3 linked regions of the Homo sapiens genome follow. The protein of the gene in region 3 interacts with the protein of the main gene of each other region in a biochemical or structural test. Each region holds a gene or a part of one and is shown on either strand. Other genes may lie near its edges.

Region 1 (2,792 bases), on a different chromosome or scaffold from region 3:
TGTTTTCAATATAAATATACTTTCTATACATTTATCTCAAATCTACTATAATATGTCTTTCTTCTTAAACCCCCCATTGTAATTATTTAATTTTCATTTGTGACAAATAATTTGCATCTGATCATGACTTAGAATTTTGCTGGTAAGATTTAAGTGTTTTTGATTCTTTATCATTTTCACAATAATAATGAAAAAGGGCCTCATGTCTTTATTTTGTACAGTTTTATCTGAATTTATTCTTAACTGCATTTAGAAAGACCTCCACCTGTTGTTTTGCATCTTGTTTTCGTTCTGGTGTATTATTTTATGATGGTAACTACTCTCCAAAAACGGACTTTTTATTTGCATGTCCCAGATTTTGCAGCTTACTAGTGACTTCCCCTTTACCTCATTTCTTCTCTGCCTAGTGTAAAATGCCAGTTGACAAAGCTTTGCAGATAGTATCGTAACTCTTCTCTAAAGTGAGAAATCCTCAGCTGGAAGAGAATGGTGTCTTTCTGAAGTATTCTCTGCCATCTGGATTTTGGGATCCAGCTTTTGCTTACTGTCAGATACAGATTAATATTCATGATTATTAAGAATGAAATCGGGGAATAAATTAACATTTTCAAAATGCTTGAAAATGTTTTATCTAGTTGACATGTGGAATGACTCTGAGCTAAGTAAGAGTTATATTTGAATAGCAGGACTCCAAACAACATTTCCTTTATACATCATCACATTATTGAAGGATAACAAGAAATGCACTTTGCATAGCTAGGGACACTTTGTCTCATTACTATAAGCAGATCCTGTTGAGACATTCTGCCCCGTGGTGAGAAGTCAAGGTGTGGGAATACAAGCCTGTGATGACTTCCTAAAATAAGCTTATTTCCAGCGCAGATGAATTTGTAGACTTTCCTAGCTTCCCAGGTATCATGAACAGGAGATGGGAGCACAAACCTGATACCAAATGATTTTACTTGTGTCATACATGATCTTTATAATATGGAGAATTTGCCAGCAATTAATTCCGGAACCTGTTTGGAGGCCCTCAGCTTCTCTGCCTGCTGGTTGTCATCCTCACATCCCTGCTGTTCTGACGGTGCCACCTCTCAGTCCATCTCTCACGTGCTTTTCTTGTAGGGGTACCAGTTTGAGGAGGAGAACCCCTTGCGTGATCACCCTCAGCCTTTTGAAGAAGGGCTGCGGCGCCTTCAGGAGGGGGACCTGCCAAATGCTGTGCTGCTTTTTGAGGCAGCTGTGCAGCAGGATCCTAAGCACATGGAAGTGAGTGACTCCATAGTCTCATTTCTGGCTAGAGACTGCTTCCTCCATCTTGAGAAAGGCCCCAAGGAGAGTAGTGCAGATGGGTTAGGGCCTGGGTGATGGCCTAGGATAGGGGCTTGAGAGCGAGATGGTGAGTGGGAGAAGCCAGGGGGAAGGGCGAATGGAGAGGTGAATATGGGGTGATGGAATCTGTCAACTTCCCTCTAGGCTTGGCAGTATCTGGGTACCACCCAGGCAGAGAATGAACAAGAACTATTAGCCATCAGTGCATTGCGGAGGTGAGTACACTGAAAGGTGTGGGTGAGGTGCTTCCAAGGCTCTGCATATAACCTTTTGAATGACAGAAGCCCAGACCTGGATCCTTGTCTTCTTTCTGAGTGCTATCAAGAGTGTTTTCTCATGCTGAAACTCTGAGGGTTGGAGTGAATTCCATTCCTTCATCGGCTTTTGATTTTATTTGCGGCTTTGGTTGGCTCCTTGCCTGCTAAAACCTTCCCCTTAGATCTGTAACTTTATTATTAACTCATGTCAGAGGAGTCACAGGTGAGGCCATTGTGACTCTGCATTTCAAAGCTTGGCTTGGATCCCAGGGTGCTCACATGTGCCAGTGTCAGTCATTGCAGATATCAAGTCTGCCCATCCCTGATCAAACAGGTGTCTGGAGCTAAAGCCAGATAACCAGACAGCACTGATGGCGCTGGCTGTGAGCTTCACCAACGAGTCCCTGCAGCGACAGGCCTGTGAAACCCTACGAGACTGGCTGCGGTACACACCAGCCTATGCCCATCTGGTGACACCTGCTGAAGAAGGGGCTGGTGGGGCAGGACTGGGCCCCAGCAAGCGTATCCTGGGATCTCTCTTGTCTGAGTGAGTATGAGGGGTTCCTAGGATGAGGAATTACAGTAACCTAAGTCCCAGTAGGAGGGTGACCTTGGTTTTGGAAGTTTGGATGGATTGAGACTGAAGGGTCCTGAGAATGGGATGGGAAACCTAGGATCAAGTTGAAGGAGGTCTGCATTCTACAGTTCAGTGCTAGGATGAAATAGAAAAACAGGCTTCTATATTGGACTTTGAGAGTAGAAGAGATGACTGATAGATTGATGAATGTTGGGGATATGGTTGATCAATGAAGAAATTAATTTGGGGGGATGGGAATAGAGACATTCATCTACCTACTTTGTGTTTTTTTCCTTTTCATCCAGCTCCCTGTTTCTTGAAGTGAAAGAGCTCTTCCTGGCAGCTGTGCGGCTGGACCCTACCTCCATTGACCCTGATGTGCAGTGTGGCTTGGGAGTCCTTTTCAACCTGAGTGGGGAGTATGACAAGGCCGTGGACTGCTTCACAGCTGCCCTCAGCGTTCGTCCCAATGTGAGCCCAGGGGAGGAATGGAAATGGGACATGACTGTGTACCTTATTGAAGAGCCATTTGTTGGGAAGCTGGGTTTGATGGTGCATGCCTGTAGTCCCAGCTACTTGGGAGGCTGAAGTGGGAGGATCACTTGAGCCTGGGAGTTCAAATCCAG
Region 2 (3,655 bases), on a different chromosome or scaffold from region 3:
TGTCATTCAGCATGTAATAGAATCAGAACTGAACACTAAACCATAAATTAAAAAAATACAGTGGGTCAGAGTAGTAGTACAGTTTGAAGACAGTAATACCTGGAATTGAGCATCATGTCTGTCATTCTTAAATTTGCATGCATCTTTCTAACAGGGGAGGTAGACATGTAGCAGTAAAAATAGTTAAAAATGTGGATAGATACTGTGAAGCTGCTCGCTCAGAAATACAAGTTCTGGAACATCTGAATACAACAGACCCCAACAGTACTTTGTAAGTATCAGATTAGAACTTGGGAAGTGGTATCAGGTATATTTAAATTAGGAGCAACTATACTTAGCTATTTTTCATGTGTTTGTAGCCGCTGTGTCCAGATGTTGGAATGGTTTGAGCATCATGGTCACATTTGCATTGTTTTTGAACTATTGGGACTTAGTACTTACGACTTCATTAAAGAAAATGGTTTTCTACCATTTCGACTGGATCATATCAGAAAGATGGCATATCAGATATGCAAGTCTGTGAATTGTAAGTTCTTGGTATATCTTCGTTAATTTGCTGGTTTTATCCATTCCACATATCAAAATGTGCATCCTAAGTGTGTACAATTTTTATTTGATTAAAAATAAAGGGGGAGGAAGAATAGGTATGAAGAGATTTGATTACAGGCTGTTGATCCAGCAGTGTACATTTCATTCAGCAAGTAGGATATCCACCATATAACAACGTACTTTGTTGCAGACTATGATTTAGACTTTTCTGATGCGCAAAAATAGTAACTTCGAATGCTGGGTAAAAATTAAGGCGTGATATATCTCATAAAAGAAAGCTTCATAAGAGGTAGTAAGTTTTAGTTACTGGTGATTTTCTAGCAGACTGGAATGTTGACCATTCTTTGGGAAAGGAATCAGAGGTTTTTTGTTGGGTTTTTTTGTTTTTTGAAATGGAGTCTCGCTTTGTTGTTCAGGCTGAAGTGCAGTGGCGCAGTCTTCACTCACTGCAAACTCTGCCTCCCCAGTTCAAGTGATTCTCCTGCCTCAGCCTCCCGAGTAGCTAGGACTACAGGCACACGCCACCACACCCGGCCAATTTTTGTAATTTTGGTAGAGACAGGGTTTCACCATATTGGTCAGGCTGGTCTCGAACTCCTGACCTCAGGTGATTACAGGCGTGAGCCACTGCACCCGGCCTGTTGTGGGGTTTTGTGATTTGGTTTGGTTTGGTGTTTTCTGATTACAGCAACTTTCTCTTTATTCTCAGTTTTGCACAGTAATAAGTTGACTCACACAGACTTAAAGCCTGAAAACATCTTATTTGTGCAGTCTGACTACACAGAGGCGTATAATCCCAAAATAGTAAGTCTTCCAAAATATTCATAAAGTATCTTATGCCTTAATAGCTTATGCCTTCTTAACCATCATTTATGATTTTCAGAAACGTGATGAACGCACCTTAATAAATCCAGATATTAAAGTTGTAGACTTTGGTAGTGCAACATATGATGACGAACATCACAGTACATTGGTATCTACAAGACATTATAGAGCACCTGAAGTTATTTTAGGTGAGTATTAATTGTCCTTTGAGAACCTTTGTATTTCCTTATTGAGACTTAAAATTTTTTTAGCAGTTTTAGGTCTTACTTGTGGGGCTTTATCATATTCTCTTTAAGGGATAAGTATCATGAAGTGCATTATGGATTTTAAGCTCTCAATTGTACCAGATAATTAGCTCTGGGAATTTGAGCAAGTGGCTTAACCTTTCTGGAATTGTTTTCACATTTGTAATATGTGGTAGGGTTTTTAAATGTAATTGTTTAATGCCAGGTGGGGCGCGGTGGCTCACATCTGTAATCTCAGCACTTTGGGAGGCCAAGGGTGGGGCGCGGTGGCTCACATCTGTAATCCCAGCACTTTGGGAGGCCAAGGCGGGCAGACCACATGGTCAGGAAATCGAGACCATCCTGGCTAATATGGTGAAACCCCATCTCTACTAAAAATACAAAAAATTAGCTGGGTGTGGTGGTACACGTCAGTAGTTCCAGCTACTCAGGAGGCTGAGGCAGAATTGCTTGAACACCGGGAGGCGGAGGTTGCAGTGAGCCAAGATTGCGCCACTGCACTCCGGCCTGGGCGACAGAGCGAGACTCCATCTCAGAAAATTGTTTAATGCCTATTTTATTCCAGACTATATATAACACTATATAATTTATTTATTTTTATCATTTATTTATTTTTTAGACGGAGACTTACTCTGTCGCCCAGGCTGGAGTGCAGTGGTGCAATCTTGGCTCACTGCAACTTCTGCCTCCTGGGTTCAAGCAATTCTCCTGCCTCAGCCTCCTGAGTAGCTGGGATTATAGGCACCCACCACCACACCCGGTTAATTTTCTTATTTTTGGTAGAGATGGGGTTTTTACCATGTTGGCAGGCTGGTCTCAAACTGCTGACCTGGAGCAATCTGCCTGCCTTGGCTTTGCAAAGTGCTGGGATTACAGGCATAAGCCACTGCGCCCGGCCATATATATTGTATTTAACCTTGGATTAAGTGATTGCTTTAGGATCTTCCAGCTCAAACATCACATTGCATATATATGTGTATATATATAATTTTTTGGGGGGGGGGCGGAGTCTTGCTCTGTCACCCAGGCTAGAGTGCAGTGGCGCGATCTCGGCTCACCGCAAGCTCCGCCTATGGGGTTCACTCCATTGTCCCACCTCAGCCTCCTGAGTAGCTGGGACTACAGGTGCCTGCCACCATGCCTGGCTAATTTTGTTTTTGTATTTTTAGTAGAGACGGAGTTTCACCGTGTAGTCAGGATGGTCTTGATCTCCTGCCCTCGTGTTCCACCTGCCTCAGCCTCCCAAAGGGCTGGGATTATGCCTGTAGCGTGAGCCACTGTGCCCGGCCAATTCAGATATATATATATCTTAATAGAGGTGGGATCTCGCTGTGTTGCCCAGGCTGGTCTTGAACTCCTGAGCTCAAGCAGTTCTCCCATCTTGGCCTCCCAAAGTGCTGGGATTACAGGTGTGAGCCACTGTGCCCAGCCTACATTACATGTGTTTTTTTTTTTAAAGTATTAGTGTTAACTAACTTTTTAATTTCTTTAACAAACATTGAGTATTTTTTTTCCTTAAATTTTGCTTTGCTTTGCAGCCCTAGGGTGGTCCCAACCATGTGATGTCTGGAGCATAGGATGCATTCTTATTGAATACTATCTTGGGTTTACCGTATTTCCAGTAAGTGACAATGATCTATTTCAACCTTGCTTTGCACAAGAAAGGTGCCTGTTTATATGAATAAATACTTTTGCTTCCCCCATTATAGACTATTAATTGTAGATAAGCATAAATAAACTAATTCATATTTCTTTCATAATTGTTTTATTTAAAACATCTTTCAGTATATAAGCAATTATCCGTGTCCATGTAGGGAATCATTGGCGAGTTTGTTCTGCAAGCCTTAATGTTAGTTTTTTTGCTGTCAGCTTTAACTGTGTCTGTTTTGGTGGTCATCTTCCCCAAGTCTGTTTTTATTTTATTTCTAGACACACGATAGTAAGGAGCATTTAGCAATGATGGAAAGGATTCTTGGACCTCTACCAAAACATATGATACAGAAAACCAGGTACGTTTTAAGAGTTAGTGACATCCT
Region 3 (3,655 bases):
TGCGCCGGTTGAGGGGCGAGGTGCCCTCCATGTGTGGAGCCCCACAGCTCTGGAGAAGCGAGGGCATCCTGGGAAGCCTTGGCCCAGAACTTGTGCCCGTCCTTGTTCCACACAGGTCTTGCCAGATGGCACCTACGTCAAACTCGGTACAGCACAGAGCAACTACCTTCCCATGGTGGTGGTGCGGGTGGAGCTGCTGTCAGGGGAGATCCTCCCTATACTGCAGAAGGCCTGTGTCATCGCCATGCGCTACTCGGTCATCCGCCGCCAATCCCGGCTCCGGCCCAGGCAAGGGGTGCCCAGTGACTGACTACCGCAGATATGCTGCCTCTTGGTCCCACAGTGCCTCCCCCTGACACCACCCTTCTGCCAGAGCCAGAGTGCTGGGAGCAGGCAATGCCCCCCACCACATACACACACACAAACACAAAATCTACCCAGCCTGGCCCCATCTGGGCATGTCAGAGGAGTCTCTCTGGCTGCCTCTAACAGGGCTGACCAGCCGGCCTAACCTGCATCCTCAGTGCCTGGCCCCCATCGGGCTCTATGTGATAGTGTCTTTGGCCCTGTAGCACCAGGTCTGTCTGACTCTGTGTCTGTCCGAGTCCAGCCGTGTTCTGTGCGGCTGTGACGGGTTGGACGGGTCTGGGTCAGCCAGTTGCCAGCTGCATCAGACTATGGCTGGCTGAGTTGATTCTGTCAGGCCGAGCCTAGCAAAATCCAATATCATATCGACTGTGTGTGGCTGAGCTCGTTCTGTCCAGCTGTGCTGTCAGCATCCCACTGGTATGTCTAGTCTGGATCCCTTTTGTTGTAATTGGTTGTGTTGCTACCACTCCCTCCACCCCACAGCACAGAATAGCAAGGGCTGCCTGAACCCTCTGTGAACACTCAGCTCGGCCATTTCACTTCATCCCTCAGCTTCCTCAGCTACAAAATGGGTGTGGCAGAAGTGGCCTTTCAGTGTGGTGTGGAGGGTGAAATGCAGTAAGGCACATTAAGTCCTCAGCCCAGGGTCCTTTCCTCTGGCAAGCTCACAGCGCCCTCGCCTGGCCTGGGCTTCAGAATCTGGGCTGCAAGAGTTCTCTGGAGGACAGGGCCACTGGGAAGAAGGGGCTTCTGCTGCTGTCCTGCCCGAGGCCCATTTATCTGGGCTGCAGAAGTGTCCCCAGGGTGGTTATAAGAAAGATGCGCCAGGTAAGCAGCTGCTGTCTGTAGAGGAGGCTTCTTGTAATCACATCCTCTTTCAATCCAGTTACTGCGAGCTCCTAAATGCCGGACATAGCCTTGGGCACTGAGGACATAGCAGCGGATAAGGCAGACACAGTCCCTTCCTTGGGGTTCCATCAGACCTGAGTTTACATCCTAAGAGTTATTGTTTAGGCTTGACATATTCCTCAGCGCGCGGCAAGTGCACACGGGCAGTGGAAGGTCACAGGTTCAAATCATCACAGGTGCAGGGCCACAACTCTTCACCTGAAATCTTGGGACCAGACGTGTTGGAGTCTCAGAACTTTTCAGGTTTTAGGATAATACTGTGTATATGCTGGAATTCTATAAGCCTCCCTTAACAAGGGGCAGTACCCACCAACAAATGTGTCAGTATTCCTGCAGTGAAATGTGTGGATGTTCATGTTAGATGGGATTTTTAAAGGATTATCAATGGCCTCATGTCAGTTCAAGTTTTGCAATGAGTTCTAAGGAACTGTCTGTTTTTAAGGTTTTTATGGTGTCGGGGATAGGGGAAGGTGGACACAACAGGTAGTGATCTAAATCTTCTGGTTCTTTTCCCTTCAGTGACCCAGAGGCAAAGGTCCTGGACTACCAGACACAACAGCAGAAACTCTTTCCTCAGCTGGCCATCAGTTATGCCTTCCATTTCCTGGCAGTCAGCCTCTTGGAGTTCTTCCAGCACTCCTACACTGCCATTCTGAACCAAGACTTCAGCTTCCTGCCTGAGGTACCTGCTGTCTGCGGAGGGGCAGGCGCTGGCAGGCGCTGGGAGCTAAGATTGTTCCACTCACTGGGGAGCAGCCACAGCCCCATCCCCATGGGCACTCCCCACCCCCACCTCTCCCAGCTTTCAGCATCCCAGGGCGTCTGGGTGAACGGCACCCTGGTATATAAATTTACCCACAACCAGCCCCCAGAGAGCTACAAACATACTAAGAGAAAACAATCACACCTAGCGTAGAGAACACAGGTCCACAACCCCTGATGTGTATTTGAAACCTGAAAAGCTCCGAAAAACAGTTGTTTGGAACTCATTTGGTGGCATAGTTTGACCTGAACTGACCTGATTTATCCCTCTGAGTGTGAATACATTTTGCAGTAAAATTATTAATGTGTTTAATCACTAAAGCTGCCCCAAACCCCACTGGGGCTATTATATAAAATGCACTTTAAATGCCACTTGGCCTCTCTATAATCCAAAAGTTACTCTGATTCCTAAACACATCTGGCTCACAGGTCTCAGGTAAAGCATTGTGGACTTACATATATAGTAAAATTCAGTCTGTCCAGGCTACCATGCTTTATAAGCACTGCTCATTAACCCTTCCAACTGCAATGAGGCACAGAGAGATCAAGGGACATAACTTTCCTCCCAAGGACTTGAAAGCTCCAAAGATAGGCAGGGTCTTCAAGAACCAAAATCTGAAAGCAGTCCTGCTGCCCAGCAGCCTCTGTCCTGTTGGGGCCACTGTAACAAAATACCATAAAGCAGTGGTTTATAAACAACAGAAATTGGCCTGGCATGGTGACTTACACCTGTAATCTCAGCACTTTGGGAGGCCAGGGCAGGAGGATTGCTTGAGCCCAGGAGTTCAAGACAAGACCAGCCTGAGCAAGATGGTGAGACCCCCGTCTCCACAAAAAAAAAAAAAAATGAAAAATTAGTCAGGTGTGGTAGCACACACCTGTAGTCCCAACTACTACTTTGGAGGCTGAGGTGGGAGGATTCCTTGAGCCCAGGAGTGCAAGGATGCAGTGAGCTGTGATTGTGCCACTGCACTCCAGTCCAGCCTGAGCAGCAGAGTGAGACGCTGTCTCAAAAAAGAAAAACAAACAAATTTATTGCTCACAGTTCTGGAGGCTGGGAAGTCCAAGGTCAAGGCACTAGTGCATTTGGTGTCAGGTGAGGGCCTGCTTCCTGAACGGCTTTTTGCTGTGTCCTCAAATGGTAGAAGCAGCCTCTTTCTTTCTTTTTTTTTTTTTTCCTGAGACAGTCTCACTCTGTCACCCAGGCTGGAGTGCAGTGGTACAATCTTGGCTCACTGCAACCTCCGCCTCCCAGGTTCAAGAGATTCTCCTGCCTCAGCCTCCTGTGTAGCTGGGACTACAAGTGCACGCCACCACGCCCAGCTAATTTTTGTATTTTTAGTAGAGACGGGGTTTCACTATGTTGGCCAGGATGGCCTCGATCTCCTGACCTCGTGATCCACCTGCCTTGGCCTCCCAAAGTGCTGGGATTGCAGGTGTGAGCCACCACACCCAGCCAGAAGCAGCCTCTTTCATGAGGGCACTGATCCCATTCATGAGGCCTCCACCCTCATGACTTAATTACCTCCTGAAGGCCCCAACTCCTACTACCATCATAATACCTCCTAATCCTAGTCCTAATCATCAATACCTCCTAATCCTAGCCCTAACCCTT

The links.
Region 1: the proteins of ACOX2 (region 3) and PEX5 interact in a test that uses a peptide from one of them, tested with the Homo sapiens proteins (one large-scale study listed by BioGRID).
Region 2: of the proteins of ACOX2 (region 3) and CLK1, one has a biochemical effect on the other in vitro, tested with the Homo sapiens proteins (one large-scale study listed by BioGRID).

The regions. Positions count from the first base shown.
Region 1 is NC_000012.12:7,206,534-7,209,325, forward strand, and holds part of PEX5 (peroxisomal biogenesis factor 5), read left to right. Parts: intron 1-1,125; coding exon 1,126-1,269; intron 1,270-1,476; coding exon 1,477-1,547; intron 1,548-1,923; coding exon 1,924-2,136; intron 2,137-2,471; coding exon 2,472-2,637; intron 2,638-2,792.
Region 2 is NC_000002.12:200,854,589-200,858,243, reverse strand, and holds part of CLK1 (dual specificity protein kinase CLK1), read left to right. Parts: intron 1-154; coding exon 155-271; intron 272-359; coding exon 360-526; intron 527-1,258; coding exon 1,259-1,353; intron 1,354-1,432; coding exon 1,433-1,562; intron 1,563-3,157; coding exon 3,158-3,240; intron 3,241-3,548; coding exon 3,549-3,628; intron 3,629-3,655. UniProt on the Homo sapiens protein: Dual specificity kinase acting on both serine/threonine and tyrosine-containing substrates.
Region 3 is NC_000003.12:58,527,099-58,530,753, reverse strand, and holds part of ACOX2 (peroxisomal acyl-coenzyme A oxidase 2), read left to right. Parts: intron 1-115; coding exon 116-288; intron 289-1,797; coding exon 1,798-1,960; intron 1,961-3,655. UniProt on the Homo sapiens protein: Oxidizes the CoA esters of the bile acid intermediates di- and tri-hydroxycholestanoic acids. Capable of oxidizing short as well as long chain 2-methyl branched fatty acids.